Linked DNA regions of Homo sapiens: all the other regions are reported to be linked to region 1. Evidence: microRNA targets listed by miRTarBase, many of them from high-throughput screens and not tested one by one. Region 1 holds a microRNA gene; each other region holds the end of a gene's coding sequence.
What was found. Region 1 holds the annotated microRNA hsa-miR-744-3p (CUGUUGCCACUAACCUCAACCU, at 2,099-2,120, shown strand). A microRNA usually pairs through its seed, bases 2 to 8, with sites in the 3' UTR of a target mRNA and lowers its output. Matches are read on the target gene's strand: a 7mer-m8 pairs with bases 2 to 8, a 7mer-A1 pairs with bases 2 to 7 and ends in A, and an 8mer does both.

Region 1 (6,402 bases):
CCAGCTTCATCTTCACCTAAATGGTCACTTATGCCACTGATTTCCGGGCTTCTTGTGATTCTGGATGCTAGAGTATCAAATAATATGGGTGAAAGGACTTTGAACTGAAAAGCACTTGTATGAATGAAAGCTTATCACTTAGTATGATTTGAAAGTCTGTTATTTGGAACACTGATTTAGTAAATTGTTATTTAGACCAAGTGTATGAATCTTTGAAGTGTAACTTTGAACCTTAATATTAGTACATACGATTATTCTCAGAGTGGGGGTAGATTTTAAAGTTCTAAGTTTTTTGGGAACCTTAAAGGTTGCTACAGAAAACCATTCTACTAATTGGAGAAAACTTTCCTAAATTTTGGAAGAAGAAAAATAATGACCAAGCACATAAACTTTGCTTGTTTGCATCATAGGATCAGAGTTTAAAAGAGATCCTGATCATTTAGTATGAAACTGAAAAATGTAGTTGATATTTAATGAATTCTTTCATTGTGTGTATGGTTGATAGTTTGTTCCTACACATTGGGGTTTGGTGTGTGTGTGAGAGAGAGCAAGAGAGAGAAACAGATTGATTTTACATTTTTCATTGGATTTACTTTTTTACAAAGCATGGTTAGAAGTTATTAATACTTTGATCTCCAGGTTGAGATTTTGGAGATGATTTTTTATTTAATGGAAATATGTAATGAGTGAGCTCTTTTGTCTACGAGCCACTCATTTTTTATCCCATTGCTTTATCGAACGAGGGCTGAAAATTTCAATTTTGAATAGCACATGGCAATTTTCCTCTTAGAGCCAGCTAGCTATTCAGTTAACTGTTCTCCCACCTCAGGATGGTATTAACAAGAACAGGACAGTATACTAAGGCACTAGTTCCCAAACATTACTGGAATCATCTGGGGGTCTTTAAAAATACTGTTTTCTGACTCCTGTCCCTGGATAATTCAGATGTAATTGCTATGGGACGATACCTGGGCATTGAGATTTTTAAAATCTCCCCCAGGTGATTGTAAGGTACAGCAAACCTTGGGAATAGTTGTACTAACTGAAGATTGAGGCACTGGAATAACTAATGTTGGGTAAGATAGGGTAAGAACTTTTTCGCAATAAGGTTTGCAGCTCTTGGGATTCTCACTTGATAATGCTGTTTGGATAAACCATCATCCAAGTTTGAATAAGATCTTATATTTAGAAATGAAAACTGATCTGCAGAATTAGTTTAATCAATAAATGGGAATTTTTAAAAATCTTCTTGGCAATTTGTTTTTATGAATCCCGTTGAAGCTGTGTCTATTGACTACCTAAATCTAGATCATTCTTAATCCAGTGTGTAAAAAACCAGGATGACACAAATGAAAAACTTCAAAAACCTGGAGGTCAGACTATTTTAGTAATTTAGAAAACATTTTTCCCACACATTAATCAGTACTAAAAGAAAAAAGTTAAAACCTATTTAAAATGTGGAAAAATTGCTTCCCAATATTTTAACAGAGAGAGACTGAGAACACACAGCATTGAGTCATCAGGAAAACTGAAGATCTCCCCTGAACAACACTGGGATTTCACTGCAGAGGACTTGAAAGACCTTGGAGAAATTGGACGAGGAGCTTATGGTTCTGTCAACAAAATGGTCCACAAACCAAGTGGGCAAATAATGGCAGTTAAAGTAGGTGATGCCATGATTATTTTTGGTACTTTAATCCATTAGGTGAAATTTCATGGTGCAGTAATACCACTGTTGTTGTGTTCCTACTTTTGTGGTAAATGTGGGTGTTTAAAAAATTGTTTCTCCAACTCCTTTGAGGGTGTTCTGTGTAGAGGTTTCTTATTGGTGGCACATTTTCTATCTCTTTGGAAACATGAGTGTATGAAGTGTGCATGTTGATTGCATTTTTGGCATGATGCATTAACATGTTTTAAACTTCAGGCCCTTCTACTGCCAAGGTGAGTTCAGGCTGGGCGGCTGCACCCCTGGGAGCAGGGCAGTGCTGCACTGAGCCAGGCGGGAGCTGGAAGAAGACGCAGCACACTGGGTTGGGCAAGGTGCGGGGCTAGGGCTAACAGCAGTCTTACTGAAGGTTTCCTGGAAACCACGCACATGCTGTTGCCACTAACCTCAACCTTACTCGGTCCTGACCGGCTCGGCTTCTGTTTGTTTATTTCATCTCTACTCAGTACTGCCCTGTTCCCTGGTTTTAAAGTTGTACTGAAATGCATACCTTGTGATAATGTTGTCACATTTTGTCCTTATTGTGTCGTGCCACTTAATATGTTCATTAAAAAAAAAAAATGGCCAGAAACAGAGATTTGATCCATAGACAATACCTGGCAAGCTTATGCTGGTACCTGTAAAGAACTGGTGGTTTCCATCTGACTCCTAGTTTCATGTAATTGTAATTTATTCATTTGTTTGTTTAGATGTTTAACAAATCTTTGCTGTATGTAAGATATTTCAGGAAAATCAGCAACAGGGGGAACAACTTGCAAAAACAAAGGAAAAAAAGCTAGCTGTGGCCATACCCTCTCTGAGCTTAAAATTCCTATGGGAACAAAAATGTTTCAGTTTACAAGAATTCAGAATGGATTTGCATATAGTCCAAGCTAATCATCTTCCTATTAGTGTCCTATTTTGAGAGTTTGTCAGAGTGGTTGATAAGAGTCCTTAGTTTTTTCTTGACATTTGAGAATGAATTTAAATTAAAATAAAATGCTTTCTGTGTAGAAGTCTGTTGTGAGCCAAACCTTACTGTAACTATTTTAGTATCCTTCACTGTTGAGCATTTCTTTTTGCTGGGTCATATGAAAGTAATGTTAAATTAGTGGTAGGGAAAATTTTTATGATTCTCTCTATGGGTTCCTAACATTGTTTTTGGCTGTATTTTTAAAATGTGGTGAGAACTATAGACTTTTCATAGGCAGGTGTATATACACAACATTTTGTATACAAACCGTAGACCTCTAAAGATGCACAGGTGAAGAACTCTGCATTATGTGTTAAAATAAAATGTTTTATTGGAATGTGAAATGATTTCTGTATTCCTATTTTGTGCCACTGCAGTGTAAGTGGAAAGAGTCATTTTATTTAGACTCCTGGATGAATGTTGTGTTGTCCCTTTGTGCTACCTGTGTGTGACATCCAGTTTTAGTTGGCTGGATCTTAAGGGAAAGGTTTCCTATATAGTTAAAGTTGTAAACTTTTCTTTCAGGTACTAGGGAAAGTAATTTTAAAAAATTATTTCCTGCTTTTTACAGTTTGTGTTATGTGTGCTTCAACTTTGTTGATGAACATTATTAAACATTTTAGTAATATGGATTGATTTTAGCCATTGTTAAAAAGGTCATAAAGGTAAAGAGGGTACTTCCTTTTGACACTTAAAAGTTTTTCTCACTGATTAATTTGATAATATTTTGGGTTGTATAATGCTTACTCAAGTTTTGTAGGAATTCAAGAATGAAAATAGGAAATTGTTGTCCATCATTTGTAATGTTACATTATCAGTGGCTACTGGCTACTGTGACAGTTCCAGTTGGGATGCTATTAAAAATCCCAGCTGTACTTGAAGAACTTTCAAGGCAGTCATGAGACCTACAAACTGGTTGCTGTCACATGTATACCCACCACATGGTACTACCTAGCTTCGTTTACCATCTCGAATTCTTGAACAAGCATAGCAGTTGGGGATGGGAGAGGATGGCAGTACAACACATCAATTAACATATAGTTGAGGAGTACCTTTGGATTCCATGACTTCATTAATACTGGAAGAATAAGTGTTTTTGCATTAATATGCATTAAAATTTGATACCAATTGATGACAGATGTATGCCATCTCTGAATTAAAGAATGCATTTATTATTGGTTTCTTCAAAGAAGAATAGTCTTTCATCACACTTGAGAGAGTTCATTCATTCCTCATTTAGGTACATTGACTGGATTGACAGGCACAAATATACAGAATCAATGTATGATTAAGGAGGTGTTTGATTTGAGACTTTACGGTTTTAAAGGAACCATGAGACGGTGGTTCACACAGCTGAGAGCTTTCCATTGCTGTTGGTGAAATGAGAAACACGCTTGAAGTAACTCTGTGCTAACATCTTAATACACACTTTGAGAATAAAGAAGGATTGCATTATTAGATGTTAAGCTGGAAATGATCCTTAAGATTTACTTGCAATATCTGTAGAAAAGTGAACTGTGATATTAGCTTGATTTTTTTCTTTGTATTATTCCTCATTTTTAGTTCTGAGGAATTCCTTCCCCAAATTTATTTTGCCATATATAAGAAATATTTGAAAAAGGTGACTTCTTAGTAACCAGAGTTAATTACCCCAAAGACTTAATCTAAAAATCAGTTTTGATATAATCAGATTTAGTGAGGTAACATTGTAAGAGTTATACTTAAAACAATTTTTTGATGTTTGGTTTGAGGACAGTCTCCCAAGCTATCGGTGAGTTTCTGCATTAGGACCTAAGATGTGAACATGGTTTACCCTTTAGTTTTAATTGCACGTGCTTGGGAAAAGGGTCTTGCTCTCCTGTGAGTGGGAGTAATTTGTATACTTGTGCCTGAATGACTAGTCTTAGGGCTGCCTAGGGCAAAGCCAGTGTTGCCTCTGGGGTTTCTTAAAGCTCAGGGAGAACAACCTTCAACTCTTACCAGGGATTTACTTCTAACTGTGATCAGTATCCTTTACAAATAACATTTATTTAGTGTCCTGTTTTGCACGGTGGTGGGGTAACCACTGAATGAAAACATTAGACATGAACAGTCACTGTCCTCTACATAAAGTAGGTGCCTGCTCAGCTCTCTGGCAGGTGGAAATGGGAGAGGATGGCAATACAACACATCAATTAACATATAGATGAGGAGTACCTCATCTATATGTTAACCAGCTCTCTGGTTAAATGTAGCGGGGTAAAGCCCAGAGTTCAGACCAAATGTTTGAAGAGGCAGTTAGGATTAGGTTTCTGAGCTAGGGTAATTCAGATCTGGGAGAAACACCTAGCATCATCAGTCAGAATCAGGATGCCACAGAAAATCTAGGGACACAGGAGAAAAGAGAGTAAATGAAATGTCACAGCTTAGACCATGGGCTTACAAGCTCAGATGGCTGACAGAGGGAAGAATGACTGTAAGCCTCTGATGCCTGACAGTATATTCTCCACCTGACTCTGCCTGCAGTGTAAAAAATCCTGCATGCCTAGAGTACCAGCTTCCCTGTTGTTTTCTAGCAGACTCATGTCCAGATTGACTTCTTGAAGGTATGCATGCCCTTTTCATGTTTGTAGAATATGTGCGAAAAACCAAAGAAACGTGAAAAAGTAAGAATGAAAATGAGAGGGAGTATAAGGACTGAAGTACCTGTCACTAAAGATGATGGCAGGCAGTGGAATCTGAATTGTTGTGTGAAGGGTTAATACTGTAATAAAGCTGTCATCTCATTGAAGAACTGAATAATATTGAGCAGGTAGGTGGGAATAAGAATGTGTCATGTTAAATTTGTCATTGTGGATCATTATGATGACTTTTCAGTCTTCTGCTTGAGAAATTATCTGGGTTAATCAGGAAAAACAGATCTGTTGTTTGAGGGTAGGTGCATAGGCCGGACTGAGTTAGCAATGTGACCTGGTATGCAAGAGTTTCAAGTATTTTCTTTCTGTTGGAGATCTGCCTAACTTGTCTTGTTCTTTTGAACCTCAGCTCTACCCTTTCACCTCTACTGTTTCATTGATGTGAGTCTTGCTGATTCTGGCCTGTTAACCTGATTTTGATTCCTGCAATCCTGCCTCTCCTTGATTATTTGGATTTTGACTTTAGTGTCCTTGACCTGGAGTTGAGACCCAGCCTAATCCTGATGCTTGATAGTAAGGACTAGAGCCCTCTGCTGACAGTATCAGCAGCCCACAGCTCAGCTGTTCCCTGAGTAGAACGGAACTTTAATCTGCTGGTTGAGTAGGCCTCCCTGGTGTAGATAGTATGGTGAGTATGGGAAGTCAGGTATCAGAAAAGTATGGCTTGGCTTGTTTTCCTGCCACTGGAGAGACCATGCCACTTCTGTCAAAAGTTCCATTACCAAATTATTTCAGTGGGGATTATGATGATGAATAATGATTTGAGGAGGTTCATTTTAGTGTTTAAACATTGGTCTTGCATGTTCTGAAAGCACTAGAATGATACTGGGATGGCCTTCAATTGGAAAAGTTCCTTTTTGATGGCATAGAGTGCTTTGTTAGGCCATTTTATTCACTTCCAAAGGGCCGCAGTGATCATATTTGATTATCCAAATCACCTATGGGATGCAGATGTCATGGCTCTTTTGTTTAGAATTGAGACTGTAGTCTAATATCTTAGGCCGTCGTTCGGTCAGATCATGTGACTTACTTAAGGCATCTGTGATTGA
Region 2 (6,402 bases), not on the chromosome of region 1:
AGCAAAATGGCAAACACGTAACATAAGACTGCACCAGAAAGTCAGACATGATTTGTCAGCCTTTATTAATCAAGAGTAAAGCCGAGCCCTAGGGTTTCCTTAACAACAACAAAAAGAACATCAACCTTGTTTATGGCAAACAGTGACTTAATTCTTAATGACTGTTCATTATATGTTTAACACCACAGAGCAAGAATTGATCACGTTTCAATCACTTATTCTTCTGAGATTAAAATACAAGATTAAAACAGATTAAAATAAAATTCACTCCAAGAATTTAAAAAATAATTCCAAATGAAGGACATTTCAAACACTGTATATAGAACTCAGGACCAAAAGAAGACCTTAAAACATTTTTTACCTTTGAGGTAGCACAATAATGCTGAATTAGATTTATTTTATTACAGTGAGCTTAAAAAAACAACACGGAATCTACCCTTTGCTCAAGGTGGGCTAAATGGTTTTACGCAAACCCCTCCATGAGGTTAGTGACAGTTCTTGTCCTTTTTTTTTTTTTTTTTTTTTTTTTTAAAGTATAAAGATAGCCCTGCAGTGTGTAAAAGGAAACCTATGGGAAGGCTGCTTCCCATAAAATAGACAATAGAATCATTGAGGAACGTCAGCAGTCAAGACAGGAGGAACAAGAGGTCATTGTAGTGAAAAACCAAAACAACTTGTATCTTGGCAAGATTGGTTTACAAGTTCATGACAAGAACAAAAATTCCAACATCAGCCAACTGAAAATAAAAGATAAAAGATGACATTCATGGATCTTTTTATTTTTCTCTGTGCAAAATGCTCTTCTTTCTGAATTAGAGGGTAGCTTGTACACTGTGACATGACATGAAATGCTGTGTGCCCAGGGTGCTGCTGGGTGCCAACAGCACCTCTCACTGAATACGATATCACTGTGTGCAGAGAAAACGGGCAATCAGAGGATAAACATAACCTCTCCTGGCTGGAGAACCATTTCTTGCGACTTTGCTGCTGAATTCACTCATTAAACTGCTCAAAGGAAAAGCTCTACCCTGATTTCTGAGAGTCTACAGCAATATATGTAACACAATTATATATGAAGACTATTGACTAACAGGACAATAGCACATGAACCTTTCCTTCAGAGAATTCAACCAAGAGAAGAGAGTGGGTGGCATAAGCTGGGGGCCAAAAGGAAGGCTCTCAGGAATATTCTCTACCATCCAAAATCAACAGCAAAGCCAGAAAAGGGGCATGAGCTCTAATTCATTGAAGAGAACACCACAAAACAGTTAACAAAGGGATCTCTTTCCAACACATGCTCCTCTCCATGAGGCTCAACCGTCAGTGCAGGGCTTGCCTGATGTGGACAATGTGGATACCTCAGCCCTGAGTTGAACTTGGCATGCCACCTTTGATTCCCCATGCTGCAAAAAGAATTGGAACGCTGTCAGGTCCTGGCACCGTGGTAATGGCTATATCCTATTTCACTCACACACGTCCTTTTAAAGTCTCCCTTCCTCAAGCTATTAAATAGAACCCTCTAGGGATCCTGTATGCAGTGAGGGTCTGAACTGATGATCCATATGTCAATCAGTAGTTGGAGGAGGATGACTTTTTTTTTTTTTTTTTGAGATAGGGTCCCACTTTGTCCCCCAGACTGGAGTGCAGTGGCACGATCATGGCTCACTGCAGCTTCAGTCTCCCAGGTTAAAGGAATCCTTTCACCTCAGCCTACTGAGTGTGCACCACCAGGTCCAGCTAATTGTTTTTTTAACTTTTTTTTTTTTTTTTTTTCTTGGTAGAGACAGGGTCTCCCTCTGTTGCCCAGGATGGTTTGGAACTCCTGGGCTCAAGCAATCCTCCCACTTTGGCTTCCCAAAGTGCTGAGATTACAGGCATGAGCCACTATGCCCAACCTGAGCAGGATGACTTAAACCTGATCAATTCTACTCCAAAACAGCAACTATCATTAAGTCAGGGGTGTCAAGGAGGACTCTGTGAAGGCAAAGACTAGACTGGGATGTGTGCGAGAGTGGGATAAGAAGGCCCATCCCTAGCAGACTGCAGGAGTGACTCTGGCATAGAATTCATGGCCAGCCCTAACTAGTGTGATGGGTGGCAGGGAGGAGGCATCTGCTCAGTGTTCAAACAAAATCCTTACAAGTTCTGGGGCTGGACCTCTGTGTCACTCCTGAATCCCAATGTATCCGTTACCTTTACAAGAAACTGGTGTGGTTCTTGTCTGCTAAGGGCAAGACCTGTTTTCTGAATTTACTTTCTGATAATAAAGTAACACCATGGAAAAGAAGAACCTCAGAAAAATATGGGGTCACCACATGGGCTTTCCCAGTGCTAGCTGCCTGTTTTGGAAAGCTGCAATGTAGGCTACAGAGGGCAGTCTGAAAAGAGTCCTTCTGCTTTCGCTTCCTGGAGCTTAAGAAGAAAAGAGGAATTACCAAGGTTGTGGTGGGTTATTTACTCTGGAAATATCTTGGTCACACTGTCCGTGGCAAAAGCGGAAAGCCTAGCTTATGTGGATAGTTGAAGGTGACTGTGTGGGCCATCATTATCTACAATAGAAATGACTCAAGCCCTAGCATGTAATCTCTTAGGGACTTAACAAGTTAAAAAGAAACAAAAAATCATATTGGAAATGGCCTCTTGGTTTAATATAAACTTGGTTACAACATTCAAATTTATCTTTACGGAAATTTCACACTGCTCCTAGGAGCCCTTATAGCATCTGATTCTAAGTTATTCTGAAGGAAAAAAAAATTATTCTGAAATATACCTTATTAGGATGATCACTGGAATTCTACCAGATATAAGTAAAAGGCTAAATGGGTTTTAAATAAATACAAGCTAAATTACCTTCTTCTGGGGTTAACAATTAGAATCCCAAATACCCCAACATCTCAACTAGAAAGGCCTTCACAGTAATTCTATGAAATTGTAAATGATGCCAAATTTTTTTTTTTTTTTTGAGATGGAGTCTTGCACTGTCACCCGGGGTGGAATACAATGGTGCAATCTCGGCTCACTGCAACCTCCACTCCCAGGTTCAAGCGATTCTCCTGCCTGAGCCTCTCAAGTAGCTGGGATTACAGGCGCCCACCACCATGCCCAGCTAATTTTTTGTATTTTTAGTAGAGACGGGGTTTCACTATGTTGGCCAGGCTGGTCTTGAACCCCTGACCTCGTGATCCGCCCGCCTCGGCCTCCCAAAGTGCTGGGATTACAGGTGTGGGTCACCGTGCCTGGCCAATGCCAATTTTTGAAAACAGATTTGATCTTTAGGGTAAATGCCTGAGTCAGCTGACAAACTCCATATACATGAATATGTCCAAGTGAAATTACCTAAAGAATAATTTTTTTTCTTTCTTTTTTTTTTTTTAAGAGACAGGGTCTCACTGTGTCACCCAGACTGGAGTGCAGTGGCATGATCACAGCTCACTGTTGCCTTGACCTCCTGGGCTCAAGTGATCCTTCCACCTCAGCCTCCTAAGTATTTGGGACTACATGCATGCATCACCACACCTGACAAATTAAAAAAAAATTTTTTTTTTGCCAGGTGCAGTGGCTCACATCTGTAATCCCAGCACTCTGAGAGGCTGAGGTGGGCGGATCACCTGAGGTTGGGAGTTTGAGACCAGCCTGACCAACACAGAGAAACCCTGTCTCTATTAAAAATACAAAATTCGCCCGGCATGGTGGCGCATGCCTGTAATCCCAGCTACTCAGGAGGTTGAGGCAGGAGAATCACTTTAATCTGGGAGGCGGAGGTTGCGGTGAGCCAAGACCGCACCATTGCACTCCAGCCTGGGCAACAAGAGCGAAACTCCGTCTCAAAAAGAAAACAAAAAAAAAATTTTTGTTTTTGTAGAGACAGGATCTCACTCTGTTGCCTAGGCTGGTCTTAAGCGATCCTCCCAGCTCAGCCTCCCAAAGCACTACAATTATAGGCATGAGCCATTGAGCCTGGCCTGAGAATTTTCTTTAATTTCAAAAAAATAGCTGCTGCTTCTTTAAAGAGTTTAAAAATTGATCGGTTCAATGGCAAAGCTACACAACAACTCTGGAGTAGAAGGAAAGAACTCTCTTTATAGTACAACCTCTTTCCAGCATACTGCCATCAGCTAGTAGAGGCAACTGCAAACAAATGGTAGGAGTTGCCCAGGAAGGTATTTGGGCTGGACAAAGTGATAGCAACCCTCCAGACCCTGGCTCCTTATAAATGTATAGCAATTCATTCATACAAACTGCACAGAGGTTAAACAAAACCTACTAAAAAAATTAAAAAATCCCACAAAATCCCCAACCCAGAAAACGTTTCCTGGCTCTCTACTAACAGTAAAATGTGCTGAGCCCAAATTTTCTGCTCTAACATGGGTCCCACGGACCTATCAGTCTGCTCTGGGGTGCTGACCTGCTGGGTCCTGAGCAGGGTCTTTCCCTAAGCATCACTGTGGGTTTGGAGACAGCTGTAATGTGTGCAGCTGTCAGCAGAAAGTACAATGCCACTGGGCTACATATGTCCATATCATCCACCACCATTTCCCACTGTAAAACCAAAGGCTGCAACTGTGAACAAATGTGGACTTCCTCAAAGGACAAATGAGGAGACTGAAGGCTACATTTCCTCCTTTGAGAACCATTAGAGAGTGTCTACAGTTATACAACAGGTTTCTGCAGACCCTGTGGTAACTTCCAAAAGCAAGAGTAGCAGCAAGAGAGGAAAGGAGCATGTTTATACTTTGGACTTTGTATCAGGCACTTAAATTGTTGGAGAGACATGCCGTTTTGAACCAAAGATATAAAAACTGGGTTGGAGTAATCTTTACAAGTGGTCTAATGAATGGGCCTTCAGAAGCAAAGTGGAGGTGTGGGTTGAACCTCTGCCCATCCTTTAGTGCTGACTTTCAAGTTTTCTAAATGCCCATAACCACAGCAATGGCAGCAGTGGCGGCAACGGCAGGAACAGTTCTGTCATGTCTGTTTTCTGTATGTGTTCTGTGGCTGACCAGAAGGTTTTGGTGTCACACTAAGAAGGCTCTGGGGTGTGGCACACCTACTGCCCGAGGTTGCCCAGATCCACGCTGGAGCCAAACATCTTCACCAGCTGTTCCTCATAGTGTGAGATGTTCCTCTTCATGATGTCCATGCAGGGCCCCAGAAGCCTCTCGAATGCTTGTACATCCATAACTGCATTGTTAAAAAGAGGTGAGGGAGAGAATGAATTCAAGCCATTTCCCTCATGCAAACCTTTTCCTAAACATACCCATTCATGTTGTATGAGATTACGCCTTGGGACACCAGCCACTTGCAAAAAGGGATGTTTCTATATGAATTCAGAAGACTGTCATCCAGGTTAGAGACTTTACAGAGTCCAGCAGCTCCTGTTCTCCCCATTCTCCCACAGCCCTGGACATCAGTTCTTTTCATACGGCTAAAGAACCTGCATGCCTGTCTTGCTCACAGGCTGTCATCAGTACTCAGAAATGTTTGCTGAAAGCATCCATTCATCCATCTCTGGTTGGTCACATAAACTGCCTAGGCCTAGACAGCAGTAAAAGATGGCAGAATATGTCAAGGCTTGCTGATGGGAAAAAAATATTACATGTTAGAAAAAGAATATTAATGCATAAAGAACTTTTCTTACCTAAGCATTTGACATCTCCAACTGCATAAGCTGAGGCAGCTCTGGGTTTGTTGGTGACCAGGGCAAGCTCTCCAAAGTACTGCCCCTTATGGCAGCGGGCAATCTCGACCTCCTGGTTCCCACCATCCTTGTTTGATTTAGTCTACAGCAGGCAAAGAACATGACCTAGGCTGACTCCAGGATCACAGCTGGGCATGTCCAGTTGCACACACATACACTGTTCTCAGCATACTCTACACAATTACTGAGGAATTCACTTTGCAGAAAATTCACTAACTGTACCATGTAAACTCCATGGACTAATCTCAGTGGTCTGGTTTGATCAGAAAAGTCTGCTTTTTACCTAGAGCTCGGAGTCCTAACATTTTCAAGGTAATCTACAGCCATACCATTCTGAACATGCCCAATCTTGTCTAAATAAGGACAATGCTTCTCTTAGGTAATGAGCCACAAACTTGGGCTATTTCTCTGATTTGAGACTGCGCCTTGAACAACATTTTACAGTGACAAAATCCCCCATGCCCCCCACATTTTTTTTTAAGAGACAGGGTCTCACTCTGTCACCAAGGCTGGAGTTCAGAGGAATGATCACAGCTCATGCAGCCTTCAACTGTTGGCCTCAAGCAATCCTCCCATCTTGGCCTCCCAAAGTGCTCGGATTACAGGAGTGATTCACTGCTCCTGGCCAACAAATTTCTTTTTAAGTACTATTTGTACCTTAAGTTAGTGGTTCCCTCCTCCTTTTTTTTTTTTTTTTTTTTTTT
Region 3 (6,402 bases), not on the chromosome of region 1:
CATCACCACACCCAGCTAATTTTGTATTTTTAGTAGAAATGCGGTTTTACCATGTTGGCCGGGCTGGTCTCGAACTCGTGACCTCAAGTGATCCACCTGCTGCGGCCTCCCAAATTGCTGGGTTATAAGCGTGAGCCATTGTTCACAGGCTGAGTGACGTAGTTTAATGTTATTTATTTATTTATTTTTTAAGACGGAGTTTTGCTTTTGTTGTCCAGGCTGGAGTGCAATGGCGTGATCTCGGCTCACCGCAACCTCCACCTCCTGGGTTCAAGCGATTCTCCTGCCTCAGCCTCCTGAGCAGCTGGGATTACAGGCATGCGCCACCAGGCCCGGGTAATTTTGTATTTTCAGTAGAGACGGGGTTTCTCAACGTAGGTCAGGCTGGTCTCAGACTCCTGACCTCGGGTGATTCGCCTGCCTCAGCATCCCAAAGTGCTGAGATTACAGGCGTGAGCCACCGCGCCCAGCCTCGTGACTTTATTTTAAAATGCTACTCTGCCATGTGATTTTTTTCCTTTTTTAAGAGACGGGGTTTGTAATCTCAGCTACTTGGGAGGCTGAGGCAGGAGAATTGCTTGAACCCGGGAGGTGGAGGTTGCAGTGAGCCGAGACTGTGCCATTGCACTCCAGCCTGGGGGACACAGCAAGACTCCGTATCAAAAAAAAAAAAAAAAGAAAAAGAAAGAAACAGGGTTGGCTGGGCGTGGTGGCTCATGCCTATAATCCCAGCACTTTGGGAGGCAGAGGAGGGCAGATCACCTGAGGACAGGAGTTTGAGACCGGCCTGGCCAACATGGCGAAACCCTGTCTCTACTAAAAATACAAAAATTAGCTGGGCGTGGTGGGCGCCTGTAATCCCAGTTACTCAGGAGGCTGAGGCAGGAGAATCACTTGAACCCGGGAGGCGGAGGTTGCAGTGAGCCGAGATCGAGCCACCGGCAACAAGAGTGAGACTCTGTCTCAAAAAAAAAAAAAAAGAGACGGGGTTTCACTATGTTGCTCAGGCTGGTTTCAAACTCTTGGGCTCGAACGGTCTTCCTGCCTCAGCCTCCCAAAATGCTGGCATTATAGGCATGAGCCACTGCACCCAGCCTGCCGTGTGACTTCTGACTAACCCGAAACTGGGAATGCCTCCAACATGTCTAACGGATGTGTTACTCTTTATGTAGAAACACGTACTTACCAGCCTTTCCTCCAGAACAAGCCTTGATGTTGTCACATCCATCACAAGATGTATCGCCCATAGCCACCTACGCGTTTCTTCCAGAGCACAGATATGCTTTCCTCGAGATAGAAGCCCTGTGTCTGGGGGTTGCAGGGTGTGATCTATCTGTCTTGCTGCTGCCCAAGACCACACTTCTTTTTTTTTTTTTTCCAGACAGGGTCTTGCTTTGTAGCCCAGGCTGGAGTGCAGTGGCGTGAGCTCGGCTCACTGCAGTCTCCACCTCCCGGGTTCAAGTGATTCTCCTGCCTCAACCTCTCCAGTAGCTGGGATTACAGGCGCCCACCACCACACCTGGCTAATTTTTGTATTTTTAGTGGAGACAAGTTTCACCATGTCAGTCAGGCTGGTCTCGAACTCCTGACCCCAAGTGAGCCACCTGCCTCGGCCTCCCAAAGTGCTGGGATTCCAGGCATAAGCCACCATGCCTGGCGAAGACCACACTCTAAGTTTCCCCCTAATAAACCACCCTGTATTGACAAACTAGATGGGTCGGCCTCATTCTTTGGTTTCTTGGCTCCTTCGGCATTTGGGGACCGCTTTGCCTATATGAACCTTTCAAAGAACACCATTTAGGCCCGTTTTCCAGATTGGGTCACTGAAGCTCAACTCCCCTCATTTTCTGAGAGAGGCAAAGAGAGGCTGCAGCTGATGTTTGCTATGCTCATTGTTCAGGTGCAGCTGGGAGGGCATGACACACATATAGCTTCCCAGGACATTCCAGGATCTGGGAATATGTATTTTTGTTTTGTTTTGTTCTGAGACAGAGTCCCGCTTGGTCACCCAGGCTGATGTGCAGCGTTGCAATCACCGCTTCCCAGGCCCAAGCGATCCTTTCACCTCAGCCTCCCAAGTAGCTGGGACTACAGGCATGTGCCACCACACCCAGCTAATTTTTTTTTTTTTCTTGAGATGGAGTCTTGCTCTGTCACCCAGGCTGGAGTACAGTAGTGTGATCTTGGCTCACTGCAACCTCTGCCTCCCAGGTTCAAGTGATTCTTGTGCCTCAGCCTCCCTGAGTAGCTGGGATTACAGGTGTACACCACCACGCCCGGCTAATTTTGGTATTTTTTTGTAGAGACGGGGTTTCACGTTGCCCAGGCTGGGCTTGAATTCCTGCCCTCAAGTGATCCGCCCACATCAGCCTCCCAAAGTGCTGGGATTATAGTTGTGAGTGACTGCGCCTGGCCCTATTTATTTATTTTTTTACATAGAGATGGGGTCTCCCTATATTGCCCAGGTTGGCCTCAAACTCCTGGGCTCAAAGGATCCTTCCTCCTTGGCCTCCTGAAGCGTTGGGATTATAGGCATCAGCCACTGTGCCCGGCCTATTTATTTTTCTCGAGAAAGGGTCTTGCCCTGTCTCCCAGGCTGGAGTGCAGTGGCGTGGTCATGGCTCACTGTAGCCTTAACCTTCTGTGGCCAAGCGATTCTTCTGTCCTTAAGCCTCCTGAGTAGCTGGGACCACAGGTGCATGCCACAACACCCGGCTAATTTTTTTTTTTTTTTTTTTTTTTTTTTTAGAGATGAGGTCTTGCTATGTTGCTCAGGCTGGTCTTGAGCTCTGAGCTTGAGTCATCCTCCTGTCATCCTCTCCTGAAACCCCCCACCCTGCCCATCCCTGGCCTCCAAAGTGCTGAGCTTATAGGCATGAACCACTGTGCCTGGCCAGAATTTCATTTAAACAAATACTCCTGGCCGGGCGTGGTGGCTCAGGCCTGTAATCCCAACACTGTGGGAGGCCGAGGCGGGGGGATCACCTGAGGTCAGGAGTTCTCAAGACCAGCCTGACCAACATGGTGAAAGCCCCATCTCTACTAAAAATACAGAAAAATTAGCCGGGTGTGTGCTGGGCACCTGTAATCCCAGCTACTCAGGAGACTGAGGCAGGAGAATCGCTTGAACCCAGGAGGCAGAGGTTGCAGTAAACCGAGATCGCGTCATCGTACTCCAGCCTGGGAGACAGAGCAAGACTCTGTCTCCAAAAACAAAACAAAACAAAAACAAATATTCCCCGCTTGCTTTTTACCAGACCCCAACTTGGTCCAAGGAAAGCATCCCCATCCCAGGTGAGGATGAAATCACCACTGGTGGATGCCAGCTTGGTGGATCTGTCTGCAGCTGTCACTGACCTGTGCCTCACAGCCAGTGGGATATAAGGGAACATGAGGAGAGGGCTGAAAGGAGAGGGAACTCTGGGGACAGATTTTCTCCCACTTAACAATGCCCAGAACAGAATGCGGCCTCTTCCTTCACTGGCTGTTGGTGACATCTGGAGCAGCTGCAGCTACCTTGGGACCATGAGGGGGGGTCCAGCCCCCAAACCTATCCTTGGCACAGCTAGGGGATGCGAGAACCTGGTTCCCTGAAGTCATCCTGCCTTGGGACATCTTGGTTTTTATCATAATTCATTTTTATTTATTCTTTTTTCTATTAGAGACAGGGCCTCATTCTGTCACCCAGCCTGGAGTGCAGTGGAGTGATAGATCATGGCTCACTGCAGCCTCAAACTCCAGGGCTCAAGGGATCCTCCCACACCAGCCTCCTAAGCAGCTGAGACTACAGGCACACACTACCATGCCCAGCTAATTTTTTTTCTTTTTCTGAGACGGGGTCTCGCTATGTTGCCCAGGCTGGTCTCAAACTCCTAAGCTCAAGTGATCCTCTTGCCTCAGCCTTCTTTTTTTCAGACAGAGTCTCGCTCTGTCACCCAGGCTGGAGTGCAGTGGCATGATCTCGGCTCACTGCAACCTCTGCCTCCTGGGTTCAAGCAATTCTCCTGCCTCAGCCTCCTGAGTAGCTGGGACTACAGGTGCCTGCCACCACGCCCAGCTAATTTTTTTAGTATTTTTAGTAGAGAAAGGGTTTCACCGTGTTAGCCGGGATGGTCTCCATCTCCTGACCTCGTGATCTATCCGCCTCTGCCTTCTAAAGTGCTGGGACTACAGGTGGAGCCACCATACCTGGTACATTCTTTTTTTTTTTTTTGAGATGGAATCTTGCTCTGGTACTCCGGTTGGAGTGCAGTGGTGCAATCTTGGCTCGCTGCAACCTCCGCCTCCCAGGATCAAGCAATTCTCTTGCCTCAGCCTCCCGAGTAGCTGGGATTACAAGTGCCCACCACCACACCCGGCTCATCTTTGTATTTTTAGTAGAGATGGGGTTTTGCCATGTTGACCAGGCTGGTCTTGAACTCCTGGCCTCAAGTGATCCCCCCTATCTTGGCCTTTCGAAGTGTTGGGATTACAGGCGTGAGCCACAGCACCTGGCCAAATTCATCTTTTAAAAGTTGCTTAATCCCGGCCAGGTGCAGTGGCTCACTCCTGTAATCCCAGCACTTTGGGAGGCTAAGGTGGGCAGATCATGATGTCAGGAGTTCAAGACCAGCCTGGCCAATATGGTGAAACCCCCATCACTACTAAAACAATGCAAAAATTAGAAGGCCGGGCGTGGTGGCAGGCAGCTGTAATCCCAGCTACTCGGGAGGCGGAGGCAGGAGAATCGCTTGATCCCAAAAGGCAGAGGTTGCAGTGAGCTGAGATTACACCACTGCCCTCCAGCCTGGGTGACAGAGTAAGACTCCATCTCAAAAAAAAAAAAAAAAAAAATTGCTTAATCCCAGGTTTGGGTTTTCTGTCCTTGTGGCTGAAGGGACCCTGAGTGAAGGCTGCAGACTCATCAGGGGCAGATGGAAAAATACCAGGATTGAGCCTCTCAGAAGTGATGCTTGAATCCAGTCTTCAAAGATGAGGACTCCGGCAGGTGACGTGGCAATAGCGTTTTGGAGGGACCAGTCCAGATACACAGGCATGGAGCCATGCATTTGTTCCAGAAAGTGTATTTGGATGGAACCGGAACATGGAACAGGACACACAGCAGGATGCGGAGCAGTGTCAGATGAGGCCAGAAAGGTGGGTGGGACTGGTCTTCAGGGGCTCCAGATGAGGCTGAGGGGCTGGGCCTAGGTCCTGGAGTGGGGTCAGCTCTGGGACCCTTCTGGGGCTGTGTGGGGAAGGGGCTGGGGGCCAAGAGGTCCAGGAGGAGGCTGGCGATGAGATGGCTGGAAGCCAGGGGTTCAGGGAGGCCCAGGCTCCTGGTATCAGGGTTCACCGGCTATACTGAGGATCCCCTGCCCCTGGCACCCAGCTGTGGAGGGGACACTGTCTTTGAGGCATCACTGGTTCCACAAAAGGTAGGGGAAGGTCTTGAGGGACCACCCCATGCCCTCATTAATCAACCAGAAGCTTGGCCCGGAGCAGCAGCGGGGATTCCAGTAGCTGTGGGCATACAGGATGCTAGGGCGGCCACAACCCAGGCAGCTGAGGCCGAGCCACCTAGGAACGCAGGCTCAGAGCAGACCCTCTTGGGACAGACGGAGAAGGGGAGGGGGCGGGCTTCTCTAAGTTAAGCCGATCACTGAGCACCTCACTGGACACGAGAGAAGGCAAGCCCCTCGGAGGACAGAAGGGAAGAGCCACAGACTTGGAGGCTGTGAAAGTGGAGACAGGTGGACCTGGGGTGGCAGCAATGCGTGAAATGCCAGGCCGTGCCCCCGCCCCAGGAGCCCAACATGACACCAGCCCCCAGGGAAGCTGACTGTGCCACTTCATCCAGCGCCCATCAGTCGCCTTGGAGCATCAGGAATCCTGAGGGCTGGGGTCCCGGAGGATCACAGATGCTGGGGCACCTCAACCTCAGGGAGCCGCTCGAGAAGTTTCTTTTCTGAAGTGTCCACCTCCTTCTGGTCACCGGCTGGAGCTGGGACAGGTACATCGTCTGGAAATGGAGGGAGGGAATGGTGGCACAGGACATCCGAACCCCTCCTCCCCCAGGACCCCAGAGGCCCAGCCCCTCCTCCCTCACACCCAGGGGTCCAGCCCCCAGCCCCTCCTCCCTCACACCCAGGGGTCCAGCCCCCAGCCCCTCCTCACTCACACCCAGGGGTCCCAGCCCCTCCTCCCTCACACCCAGGGGTCCCAGCCCCCAGCCCCTCCTCCCTCAGACCCAGGAGTCCGGACCCCCAGTCCCTCTTCCCTCAGATCTGGGAGTCTGGGCCCCCAGTCCCTCTTCCCTCAGATCTGGGAGTCCAGGCCCAGCCCCTCCAACCTCAGACCCAGGGGTCCAGCCCTGCAGCCCCTCCTCCCTGGACTAGGGCCAGCACCTGTGTCTGGGTGGAA
Region 4 (6,402 bases), not on the chromosome of region 1:
GTGAAATCCTATCTCTACTAAAAATACAAAAATTAGCCAGGCAAGGTGGCGGGCGCCTGTAATCCCAGCTACTCAGGAGGCTAAGGCAGGAGAATCGCTTGAATCTGGGAGGTGGAGATTGCAGTGAGCTGAGATTGCACCACTGCATTCCAGCCTGGGCAACAGAGACTTCATCTCAAAAAAAAAAAAAAAAAGCAATGGTTGCAAATGTTCTGAGTTCAAGTCCCAGCTCCATCTCTTCCTGGCTATGTGATCTGAGCAAGATCTTGTCTCTCTGTACTTCAGTTTCCTTCTCTGTAAAATGGGGATGACTCCAGTTGCGGATGAGCCGCGTTCATGGGCAAGCAGTGTGTTCTACTGAGTCTGCGCCTACCTAGTAGGTGCTAATCGTACGTGAGGTTTTTGTTTTTGTTTTTTTGCTGATAAAGGAATGCAAGGAGGAGGCAACCACGTGTCCAAGGCTGTGTGTGGTTTTTCTTTTTTTAATGTCTGCTGTTAATAAAATATTTTTACAGAGACCAAAAAGTCAGAATAGTGCAAAACATCTCAACACCATGCATTCATGACCACTTCTCGTTTGTGTTAAACATTTGTTCCAAGTCACATATTTACAGAGAAATGAAGGCGTCTGTGCAGACACTGGACCGACGGGGTAGAATCAAAACAAAACAAAAAACAAACAACGTTTTGATTTCACATCTGCAATCACATGCTAAGAGTTGTGTGGAGGGGAAGCCTCCCCGGACTGCTTGGCCGGTTTGTGGGGGTCTGAGGGAGCACGAGACAGGGGTGGACAGGGGTCAAGTCCCCCTGGCTGTGTGGTTGGGGATGATCAGGGGACCCTCCGCCTGTGACCTGTGTCTCCAGAGAGCCACTATGGCTGGACGGGGGTAAGGGGTGGGGTGTTACTTGACACAGTCAACTTGATTTTTCTCTGAAACAATAAAAGGCAAAGAGAAAAGCAACACGTGTCAGCAAAGACAACTTTGGTCCTCAACGATTCTTAGGAAAGGATTCTGGGGAGCAGACGGGGTTGTGATCCGGGACTAAGGCCCTCCCCCAACTTCCCCAGGGTGGCAGAGTTCCGGGAGGCCCCAGGTTGTCCCCATCTGCAAAATCGACAGCACATGGGGTAGGGGTAGGGGACAGAAAGGCTCTGAGATCCCAGCCGAGAGAGGTCCCAAGGATTTCTAGTTGGGTGTTTAGTTTTTTGCATCTCTGATGGGGGCATGGTGAGGTCTCAGGCTCTGGGGCCTGAGAGAGGAATTGGGGGTGTGGACAGGCACCTCCTCATTTTATGCAAATCATTCGAGGACAGACTGGTAAGAGTGAACAGATCCTTCTTTCTTCAGGACACCCTCTTTACTTCCCCCGACACTCCCTGCCTTGGTCTCTGCATTTATCTTTCTCTGTATATTTCCACCTCTATGTCTCTCTCCATCTCTGTCTCTCTCCGTCCTCATCGGGGCGTGATCTCACCCTCTGTCTCTGTGTTTTCTACTCTATTCCTCTTGGTCAGGGGACTTTGACTCTGAGGCATCCCTCAATGTCACCCCTTTAACCCTTGCCCTGCCACAGGCCAACCTTCTTGTGCTGTTTCCCCGATTCATGGAAATGTGGGGCCAGCTCCTTGCATAAAGCGAGGTCCAGGGTTCAGAACCCTGGAGGTGTCATCCAAGGCCGGGCTCTGTGTCCACTTGCTGGGTGGCGTTGAGGAAAGCCCTGCTCCTCTCTGGGCTTTGTTCTGCCAATACAGGAACTTCCTGATTTCAAAAGGCTTTCAGCCCCCTGGACTCCTTGTCTTTTCTCTGTCCGTGTCTCAGCCATGTCCACTCTCTGTCCCATGTGTCAGGCTCAGACACCTCCTATGTGCCCAGGTCCGTGTGGAAGGGGAAGGTTGGTACGGACAGACATGGACAGACATGCATGCGGATGTGTATTCTCACACTGACCCTGCCCCAATACATAATTCCACTAGGCGTAGACTCCCTGTCACCCACTTGTGCCCAGCCTGTGCTAGGTAAAGTTGGGGGTCCTGAGAGTCCTCAGACCCCAGTCTGGGAGAAACAGAGCTGGACAGAGAAACCCCCAGTCCCATGGCATCAGGCTGGACTGGAGGAGAGACGGTGGCTGGGAAAGTCCTGAGGGGAAGGAAGGAGGGTTTTCTCCAAGAGGGGTTTCCGTGATGGGTTTTGAAGGACGAATAGGAGTTCTCTGGGGGAAAGAAAAGAGGGTGGAAATTGCAAAAACAGTTCTAGCCTGGGAGTCAGGAAAACTCATTCAACAAATATTCCCTGAAGAAGCTTGTTTCCTTCACATGCCTGGGCCATTGCTGGGGAACCCTAAACACACACACACACACACGGAGGTCTTGAACAGAAAGACTCCTAAGGAATCTTTTGGGAAATAACTTGGCTCTCTCAGGCAGCTCGACTTCCCCATTTCTTTCCAGCCATCCAAAAATCTTCCAGATCACCCTCACCCCAGGTCACAGATCACTTCCCCTTTGGGCTCTATGGGTTACAACCCTGAATCATCCATCCACCCGACCCCTACCCTCAGCCATGTCATGGTTCGAAATTCACATCTGCTCCTCAGTCCATATAACAGTCACATAAGCTTATCCCTGGCTACAACTTCCCAACCCTGTATGAGAATTTGCATTTTAACCTTTGGTTCAGAACCTCCAGTTACCTGCACCTGTCTGAATTTAAGGGACATGCAACATCTCCAAGCAAATTAGAAAGTGGCGCCACTTCTTCCAGACACTTGGGCCATTCACATGTCGGGAAACCAACGTCACAAACATACAACACTCAATATCTAGGATTTGCACGTGGCCTTCTTAGCAATGCCAAACCCTTGGGCACTGTGCAACTGGGACAACTGTACTCAGCAGCCCTAGAGCTCATCTAAGGGCAGGATTTTTTTTTTTTTTTGGTGGGGTAGAGGGGAGGGAATGGAGTATTGTTCTGTTGCCCAGGCTGGAGTGCAGTTGTGTGATCACGACTCACTACAACCTCTGCCTCCAGGGTTCAAACAATTCTCCCGCCTCAGTCTCCTGAGTAGCTGGGACTACAGGCATGCACCACTGCACCCAGCTAATTTTTGTATTTTTAGCAGAGATGGGGTTTCGCCATGTTGGCCAGGCTGGTCTCAAACTCCTGACCTTAAGTGATCTGCCAGCCTCGGTCTCCCCAAATGCTGGGATTATAGTCATGTCCCCACAGCTATAGGTGTCTTTTCAACACAGCCTTCAGAATCTTTCCAAGAATCCATTTCAGTGTCCCCAAAGCACCTCCACCTCTCCTCACTGGTTTTAGTCTTCACAAAACAGCTTTTGCAGGCTGGAATCCAGTCTCTCCCCAACTTAAAACAGCTCCTGGAGCTCCCCAACTGTCTTAGAATAAAAGTAAAACTCCTCAGGACTGCGTACGAGGCCCTGCCTGGTCTGATGCTTCTGCAGATCTCCCCAACCCCAAGGCTCCTCACGATCCCCCTTGCTGGCTCAGCTCCAGCCGTGCCACCCTTCTCGTTGTTTCAACAGTTCTTCTCTCCTGGCCTTCGCACGTGCTGTTCCCCAGGCCTGGAGCTCTTTTCTCTCTAGTAAGTGGTTCCCTCTCATTCTTCACCTCGGAAAGCCTCCCCATCTGATGTTCTATCCTCCAGAAACCCAGCTACTCAGCTCACCCCGTTTTCATTTCTCCCTAGCACAGCAAAATCTTGTCCTTCCCAATCCAGCAGAAAAAGGCGTGCCATACACACATGTGGAAAAGCAGATCCCAGAGCAAGTGTAGTCCACGCTGAACTTTCCCCTAAGGTCCTATGTGCACCAGGTAACTCCAGCCAGGTCACTGTAACTTTGCTCATTGGAGAAAGAGCTTCCAGCTGGCAAGAGGGCCATCTGAGGTATCCTGTGGCTTGGGTGTTTGAATCAATGAATAGGCTCTTGGAGACTAAGCTCTCACTGTGTCACTGTGTTTGTGTTTCTCTCTCTCTCATTCTCTTTCTCTCATTCTCTTTCTCCCCCCTAGAGTTTCTGGTCTCCTTCTGTTCTTTCCTATTTGGAAAATTCTGGAAAAGGAAGAAGGGATGGAGAAACCTGGGACCAGGGGATCCCAAATTCTCTTTTGTGGTGGGAGGCCCTCATGGCATCCCCCATGGAGATCCCAGGAGAAAGGGCTGAGGGCAAAGGTCCTGCTTGGCAGCCGGAGAAGGAAAGGCGAAGTAGGGGTCTTGGCCTGGAATTCCCACCCCTTGGAGGAGGCCGAGGGGGAATTAGCAGCAATAGGGAGCTGTGTCAGGTCATCCCGATCTCAGCCCACCCTTCCATGGGGCACACAGGCCTAAGGGAGGGGCACAGAGGGTATGGCACCTGGAACCTTGGCCAAGTCTCAAGCAGCTCTTTAAGCCTCAGTTTTGCCATCTGTCAAATGGGTGTGTTGAACTCTATGATATGAGGACTGGGTTTGTTGGGGGAGAGGGAGAGGCAAACTCCCAAAGGGAAGTAGGGGCAGCGTGGGGAACCAGAGCCGTCCCCTCGGCCCCCAGGGTTTGGGCGCCCAAGGGCGCATGTGCTTTTGAAATCCCATCCTCCCCCCTCCCCCCATTTATTTTTTGCACAAATATCTAAAGGGACTCCGGTATTCCGGGGCCCTCCAACCAGCATCCTGGTCCCTCCAGTCCCCAGGCCACCTAGAGGGGCGCTCCAGAGAGCCCTACCCCTTGCCCAGGGCCCCCCCTCGAGGGAGCTGAGATTTCCATACTTGGCAATTGGTCTGGGGTCCCAGGGGTCTGGGTCCCATCTTATGGCTTTTCCAGGGGACATGAGGTGGTGCCTCCCGGTACCAGAGCCCCGGGATGTGGCCTCCTCCATAGGGACGAGGTTTCCCCCATCCCAGCTCAAAATGCCCCCTAGGTGCTGGGGGCGTGGCCTCAAGTTGGGGATGTGGCTCCTTCCTTCGTCGCGCCCTTGGGCGTGGCCTCCCGAGAGGGCGGGGCATCCTCCATTCCTAATTCCCCAAAAGGGAAAGCTGAGTCAAGGGCGTAGGCGCAGCCCACCCTTGGCGTGGAGCCCCCCGAGCCCCGCCCCTGGGGAGGTCCCACCAAGGCGCAAGCCCCGTCCCTCCCCGCCCAGCGCCCTCCGCGCAGGCGCAGTGCCGCTCGGCCGACCGCCCGCGCTAAGGCGCAGGCGCGGCACCGCCCTCCTCGGCGGAGCGCGTGTCCGACTTGAGCTTCACGAACTCCTTGGCCACCTCGTCGTTGCTGCGCTGCGAGAGGATTCGCAGCACCGTGAGGCCCGTGTCGTCCATGTGGATGCGGCGGCCGAGCGGCAGCCAGCAGGCGGCGCTCCCGCGCTGGGCCAGCTCACGCAGCTGCAGCACGGCCAGCCCCACCGTGCGGTCCTCGCGCGCGAAGCAGTAGTCCTTGACGCACACCTGCAGCTCATAGCACTCGGGACCCGCGTCGGCGCTCAGCGTGCTGCGTGGGGAGGGGCGGAACGTGAGACAGGCCACACCTACTGTGATGCCCCGCCCACGGCCCCGTCCCCACCGCATTTGCGGGCCACGCCCACACCGGGGTGCCCACACCTGTCACCTCCCACGCTACGCTAGCCCCGCCCCTGCCCCGTTACTTGACCTACAACCCTGTGCTTGGCCGCGCCCACAGCAGCTGACCCCGAGCTGGGCCACGCCCACGCCTGTTCTTCCCATTTTTCCACCCACCGAAAAATGACCGCATAGTTTTACATCCAGCTCCCGCCCCTCAGACACCGCCCTGCAAGGCCATGCTCCCACCCTGAGATACCCGCGCCTGTGCCCTCTGCCGGCTGAACTGCTGCCCGCACGGCCCTGCCCCTAATGTCCCACCCAGAAGCTCTTTAACCAGGCTCTCCTCTAGACCCACGACGTGGCCCTTTCCCCAGCCCCCCACACCCCCAGCCCACCCCTCTTACTTCCAAGATGCCCTCCAGACATGAGCCTGCCCTGGTGCCTCACCATGGGTGACACCGCCTCCCGCATGCCCCTCACCTGTGCTCCTGCCCCTAAGCAGTCCCAGTGACCTGCCCTGACGCCAGCTGGATAAGAGCCCCTCCTACAGGGTCACGCCCAGCTTCTCCCTCTTGTCCACCTCCCAGGTTGTACCTCTATCCCTGAAGTACTCCGGCCCACCCTGGCTGACATCTGACCTCCCACTAGACCATGCTTCTCCTCCTGAGTATCCCCTAAAGGGGCCAATCGCCCCAAAACCTTCTGACCAAGAGCCCTGTGCTGACACGACATGGAACTGGCTTCAATCTTGTCCCATAAGAGCTCCCAGGCCCCCTAGATAATACCAGCTAACCAGCTCTGATTTACCCTTACCCCTGTGCATTTTTATTTATTTTTATTTATTTTTATT
Region 5 (6,402 bases), not on the chromosome of region 1:
TTCAATACACTTGAAACTTTCAAAGATTTACATTCTGAATATTTTGAGTGGATTGAGATGAATTACTGTCAGCACTCAGGTATAAAATACATTAACATCAAAGCCCATTTCCAATAATGTGAACAGTGGATTAGGAGATTAATTTTTTAAAATTCCACATAGCTCAAGAATCTTTCAAGAATGTTCTGAATTTGGAAATTAAGCTTTCAGAAAAGATACAATAATGTCAAATCTCCCATTTCAGCTTCTTTAGGTTTAACTTATCCATCAAGGACCCATTCAAAAGTCTTGTCCTATCCCTTTTAGCTAAAAAACCCCTCAGCTAAAAGGGAACTTCCCTATCCCTTTGACTGTATCTTTGGTGATAGAACCAGGTGATAAGTTGACTTTACCATAAGTCAACTTATGGTAAAGTGATTTGCATTCATGTTTTATCTCTCCTAAATTGTACACTCCTTGAGAGCAGAAACTGCTAGATTAGACTTGCTACTTACATGGCCAGTTTTTTGTAAAGATGAGGACCTTCAATGTGTATTAGTTGAAGAAATTCTACTTTATCTGTTCCACAAAAAGATAAATTGTGTTGATTAACTTTTCTTTCCCTTTTCACAGGATCAGCATGCTCTTTTGGTAAAGTATCAAGGTTTGGTTGTAAAGCAGCTAGTCAGTCAAAGTAAGAAGACTGGGCAGGGAGATTATCCCTTGAATAATGAATTAGACAAAGAACAAGAAGATGTTGCCAGTACTACTCGTAAAGAGCTTCAAGAACTTTCTTCATCCATTAAAGACCTTGTTCTCAAATCTAGGAAATCATCTGTGACGGAAGAGTAATGATCTTAATTTACATTTGTCATATAGTAAGCATTTTCCCCCAAGGTTGAAGGTGAGTGGTCACAAAAAAGTAGTCACTATACAACTCCCCTCTCCCTGCAAAAACCACCTCATACACACACAATTCAGTTAAAACAGTAGTATTGTATTAAATGTAAATCTTAAAAAGATGTGAATTTTTGTAAATTGGGTTCTTCATGGAAGTTTTTTTCCACCTGATTTTCACACAAATACTATATGAAATTTTTCACATTATTTTCACATAATTTTAAAAATTACATATTTCAGGTTTGTTCTCTTTCCAAATGTTGAATGAAAAACAAATTTTCCAATCCATTTATCCCTGGGGAAGGATTCATTTGTTGCGAGTGCCAGTATACTTAAATGTATACTTTATATACATTTAAGCAGAAATTTAAAATGTGGTCTTTTTTTTTTAAAAGAAACACTTCTGTGTCAGAAATGAAAATAAATCATGTTTTTTATTTTTAAATAGAAAGCACTTCAAAACTAAAATACAGAAATTTACAAAAAAGAAAAATTATTACTAAGCCCTTGCTCTTATTTTTGGCAGAATAAACATTGATTTTGGTTGGGGCTGCAAGGATGCCTTTACAGGTGCACAAGAACGCTAGAGTGGCCCATGCATTGCTGTGTTCTCTTCTAAAACAAGCTACTAACAAGAGAGAGAACACATGCAATTTATTACCAGTAAGCATAAGTCATATTTAACATTGGAATAACTAAGCATTTTATACAAAGATTTTTCTTTGACCCAGTTTGCATTTGTACATTTTATTTTTTTAGTTCAACAGCTGCTCTGTCACATAATACTTTGTAAATACTAGTGTGAAAAACAGATAGGATGCCTTTTCCAGTGGTAGGAGCATCTGTAAGTGCATTTAAATCATTAGAAGCTTTTTTCCAAAACTAGAAACCCTTATTAAAAAATAGACATTTTTTTCTAAAGATTATTAGTTAAAAATAACTAAAAGAGTTCCTTAGAGTAATCATTTCAACCAAATGAATTTCAAGCAACAACTTACTTACTATTTATCAAAAAGGGATTTAATTATTTTGAATATAATTATAAATTAAATTTCAAATATTTAAAAATACTATTTTATATAATTCCTTATGACATTTTAAACTTTATATTTTAAAATATTTGAATACGAAAAGATCAGTCTACCTCTACTCCATTCTAGACAAAGTATTAATCCTTAGTGAAAGTAATTAATTAAATTGCCAACTTGGCATTATTATTAAACTTGATAGGAACGCAACATTAAATTTAAAAATGTTTTCCCGTGGGTAATTTTCTATTATATATTTTCATATGGGCAAAGGGAAAAAATGATAAATCCTCTGTAATCACAAACCCCAATTTCGTTTTGTTTATTCAGCTTCTAAAATATTGAACACCCAGACTTTTAATTCAACCTTTAAGAACCTTATCATTTATGTTTCAGTAGATATCAAAGTAATCCATGTTTGTGTCAAATGATCATAGAAAATAAATAGAAGAGACAGTGAAGCAAGTAAAAAGAAAAGCATTGTTTTAATTTGTTTGCATTAATTTTTTTCATTTGTCAAAATGCTTCTTTTGTTGCCACAGTAAAGAACAGTTTTTATTGTTTTGTAAGTAAAATTACGTAGCTGATTTTGTATGTAAAGATTAATTTCCATAATAAAAATTATTGTATGTTTACTGTGATCTTAATGGGCAGGGTTAAGAAAGTTATTTAAAATAAAGTTACCTATTCTACTAAATTTTATAGTACTTTGAAGCTTCTATTAATTAACACAAAGATTAATTGGTGCATATATTTTATATATATACATTTTGAATTCTCATTTTGAACATTATTAAAGGATTTTATTTTTCTTACACAAAAATAGTTCCAGAGCTCTCAGTGTCTTTCATTCCTTGAGAGTTTGCCATTCTCAAACCATTTTATCTTAGTAAATTATTTCTCAATTAACTAGATTTCAGCAAATGTGTAGCTGTATTCTTGCATATGCTAATTCCTGCTATTGCAGTCGGGGTAGAAATATTGGAAAATGTGCTCAGGTATTCATGTTCATGTGTTCCAGCTCTAGACTTACTTATGTGCTTTTCAAGAGTTAAGGAAACTCTTGGCCATCAGAAAGATCCGATGAAGAGTGGCATATAGTATCAAAATCACAGTGTATTTTGTGAAAAGACCTTAATGCTAAATTAGGACAATAAATGTAATAGTTGCTTAACCTGAATGTATTATTAGAGAAATGCTTTACTTAGACCAAAAAGCACCATGGATAAGGTCAGGGTGCAATGGTGATCTGAAGCTGGAATCAGACTGAAAAGGAACAGTTCATTCCTTCCTCAGAAATGTCACTAGAACCAGAGTGTATTAGTCCGTTTTCACGCTGCTAATAAAGACTACCCGAGACTGGGCAATTTACAAAAGAAAGAGGTTTATTGGACTTAAATTTCCATGTGGCTGGAGAGGCCTCACAATCATGGCAGAAGGTAAAAGGCAATGTCTCACATGATGCCAGACAAGGGAAGAGGAGCTTGTGCAGGGAAACTCCCCCTTTTAAATTCATCAGATCTCATGAGACTCATTCACTATCAAGAGAACAGAGCAGGAAAGACCTGCCCCCATAATTCAATCACCTCCCACCCTGTTCTTCCCATGACACGTAGGAATTGTGGGAGTCAGAATTCAAGATGAGATTTGAATGGGGACACAGCCAAAACATATCGTTCCATCCCTGGCCCCTCCCAAATCTCATGTCCTCACATTTCAAAACCAATCAATCATGCCTTCCCGACAGTCCCCAAAATCTTAATTCATTTTAGCATTAACTCAAAAGTCCACAGTCCAATGTCTCATCTGAGACAAGGTAAGTCCCTTCCTCCCATGAAGCTATAAAATCAAAAGCAAGTTAGTTACTTCCTAAATACAATGGGGATACAGGCATTGGGTAAATACAGCCATTCCAAATGGGAGAAATTGGCCAAAACAAAGGGGCTACAATCCCTATGTCAAAGTCCAGCAGGCAGTCAAATCTTAATGCTCCCTTTGACTCCATGTTTTGCATCTGAGTCACACTGATGCTAGAAGTGAGTTCCCATGGTCTTGGGCAGCTCCCCCTCTGTGGCGTTGCCGGGTACAGTCTCCTCCTGGCTGCCTTCATGGGCTGGCATTGAGTGTGGCATTTCCAGGCACATGGTGCAAGCTGTCAGTGGAGCTACCATTCTGGGGTCTGGAGGACAGAGGCCCTCTTCTCAGAGCTCCACTAGGCGGTGCCCTAGTAGGGACTCTGTGTGGGGGCTCCCACCCCACATTTCCCTTCTGCACTGCTCTAGCAGAGGTTCTCCATGAGGACCCCGCCCCTGCAGCAAACGTCTGCAGGGGCATCCAGACGTTTCCATACATCTTCTGAAATATAGGCGGAGGTTTCCAAACCTCAATTCTTGACTTCCGTGCACTCGCAGACTCAACATCACGTGGAAGCTGCCAAGGCTTGGGCTTGCACCCTCTGAAGCCATGATTAGAGTGGTTGGGATGCAGGGCACCAAGTCCCTAGGCTGCACACAGCACGTGGACCTGGCCCACGAAACCATTTTCTCCTAGGCCTCTGGGCCTGTGATGGGAGAGGCTGCCGTGAAGATCTCTGATACGCCATGGAGACATTTTCCCCCATTGTCTTGGTGATTTAACATTTGGTTCCCTGTTACTTATGCAAGTTTCTGCAGCTGGCTTGAATTTCTCCTCAGAAAATGGGTTTTTCTTTTCTATCACATTGTCAGGCTGCAAATTTTCCAAACCTTTATGCTCTGCTTCCCTTATAAAACTGAATGTCTTTAATAGCACCCAAGTCACCTTGAATGCTTTGCTGCTTAGAAATTTCTTCCACCAGATACCCTAAATCATCTCTCTCAAGTTCAAAGTTCCACAGATCTCTAGGGCAGGGGAGAGATGCCACCAGTTTCTTTGCTAAAACATAACGAGAGTCACCTTTGCTCCAGTTCCCAACAAGTTCCTCATCTCCATCTGAGATCACCTCAACCTGGACTTTATTGTCCATATTGCTCTCAGCATTTTGGGCAAAGCTATTCAAGTCTCTAGGAAGTTTCAAACTTGCCCACATTTTCCTGTCTTCTTCTGAGCCCTCCAAACTCTTCCAACCTCTGCCTGCTACCCAGTTCCAAAGTCACTTCCACATTTTCAGGTATCTTTTCAGCTGCACCCAACTCTACTGGTACTAATTTACCATTTTCATGCTGCTGATAAAGACATACTCAAGACTGGGCAATTTACAAAAGAAAGAGGTTTATTGGACTTACAGTTCCACATGGCTCGGGAGGCCTCACAATCATGGCAGAAGGTGAAAAGCGCATCTCACATGGCGGTGGACAAGAGAATTTGTGCAGGGAAACGCCCCTTTTTAAAACCATCAGATCTCCTGAGACTCATTCACTATCACAGGAACAGCACAGAAAAGACCTGCCCCCACATTTCAATCACCTCCCACCAGGTTCCTCCCATGACACATGGGAAATATGGGAGTTACAATTCAAGATGAGATTTGGGTGGAGGCACAGCCAAACCATTTCACAGAAACAAATGGGATTTTTTCTATCAAGAAGTAACTGATGTGAGTTGGGAGGGAGTAAGAGGATGGAAGATTTACTTTCTTTCACTAAGACCAATGAAGAATTTCCCCCAATACATGGGAGATGTAATAAATGCACACACAAAACTCCCCTGGGATGTACATTTTCCACACAAATCTGGGAGCACTGTTCAAGTGGCTATTTAAATGACCTGCAAATTCACACAAGTTGCTCTATCTTGAGGACCCTACTAAGCGTACAACAGAATAAATAGATCCAGGAGAGGCTTCTTTCAAACCTTCTAAGAATGAAACTGACTTTCAGGCTTTCAGAAAAACAATTTGTATTACACTTACATCATAAAAAAGAAGGAATAACCACTGTAAACATGTATTCAATGTTTATAAGTTCCCAGTGTTGTATTATTTGTTTTATCAAACTTGCCCCTAGTTGCATCTCTATTTCTCTGAAGTGATTAGTAGTAAGACAATCTGGGTGTTTGTTTTAAGGAGCAGGAAAGACAGGATTACATTGATGGTGAAATGGAGGAAAGGGAGAACATGGTGAATTTATGGACTTGGCCTAATTTACTCGATCGTGTATGACAGCTAAATACTAGGAAGGCACATATCAACTTTAAAGGTATGTTTTACTTTCAAAGAAATAACAAGTCAATAATTACAGTTAAATATAGTGTCTTGGTAAAAGTACACAGAGGGTGTTGTGACAAGAAATGAAATTTAGACTGTGTTGCACAATGGGGAGGCTGGAAATAACACCTGAACCAAGAGTCCAGAGAGAAAAAAAGAAGGATTAGCCTTGGTGAAAATGAGAGAAGGGAAGGAGAGCATATTAAGGCAGAGAAAAGGAGGTACAGAAGTACTATGACGCTAATTAGAATGAAATAATGAGATGTGGGGAGCCAAGAAGTCTGAGAAATATAATAACTGATCTGGGGAAGT

Region 2: the mRNA of PRKAR2A is a reported target of hsa-miR-744-3p. Seed matches in the 3' UTR shown: 7mer-m8 at 3,879-3,885, 7mer-m8 at 3,434-3,440 and 7mer-m8 at 1,798-1,804.
Region 3: the mRNA of NUCB1 is a reported target of hsa-miR-744-3p. The part of its 3' UTR that is shown has no 7-base or 8-base seed match.
Region 4: the mRNA of UNC13A is a reported target of hsa-miR-744-3p. Seed matches in the 3' UTR shown: 7mer-m8 at 2,974-2,980.
Region 5: miRTarBase lists UFL1 as a target of hsa-miR-744-3p. Seed matches in the 3' UTR shown: 7mer-A1 at 1,866-1,872.

The regions. Positions count from the first base shown.
Region 1 is chr17:12,079,868-12,086,269 of GRCh38, forward strand. MIR744 (microRNA 744) reads left to right here and starts at 2,032; the gene lies at 2,032-2,129. MAP2K4 (mitogen-activated protein kinase kinase 4) reads left to right here. Exons shown (of 11, transcript NM_003010.4): 3 at 1,489-1,663.
Region 2 is chr3:48,746,538-48,752,939 of GRCh38, forward strand. PRKAR2A (protein kinase cAMP-dependent type II regulatory subunit alpha) reads right to left here. Exons shown (of 11, transcript NM_004157.4): 10 at 5,639-5,780; 11 at 49-5,181. The coding sequence ends at 5,048. Among named protein-coding and RNA genes, the nearest start is that of IP6K2, 33 kb to the left of the region's middle.
Region 3 is chr19:48,921,917-48,928,318 of GRCh38, reverse strand. NUCB1 (nucleobindin 1) reads right to left here. Exons shown (of 13, transcript NM_006184.6): 12 at 6,387-6,402; 13 at 4,947-6,001. The coding sequence ends at 5,895. Among named protein-coding and RNA genes, the nearest start is that of NUCB1-AS1, 6.2 kb to the right of the region's middle. RefSeq lists a silencer at 1,113-1,407 and an enhancer at 5,084-5,583.
Region 4 is chr19:17,600,874-17,607,275 of GRCh38, forward strand. UNC13A (unc-13 homolog A) reads right to left here. Exons shown (of 44, transcript NM_001080421.3): 44 at 463-5,481. The coding sequence ends at 5,181. Among named protein-coding and RNA genes, the nearest start is that of COLGALT1, 48 kb to the left of the region's middle. RefSeq lists enhancers at 4,044-4,948, 4,949-5,853 and silencers at 4,938-5,197, 5,568-5,787.
Region 5 is chr6:96,552,673-96,559,074 of GRCh38, forward strand. It overlaps UFL1 (UFM1 specific ligase 1), which reads left to right. Exons shown (of 19, transcript NM_015323.5): 19 at 613-2,604. The coding sequence ends at 831. Among named protein-coding and RNA genes, the nearest start is that of FHL5, 7.3 kb to the right of the region's middle.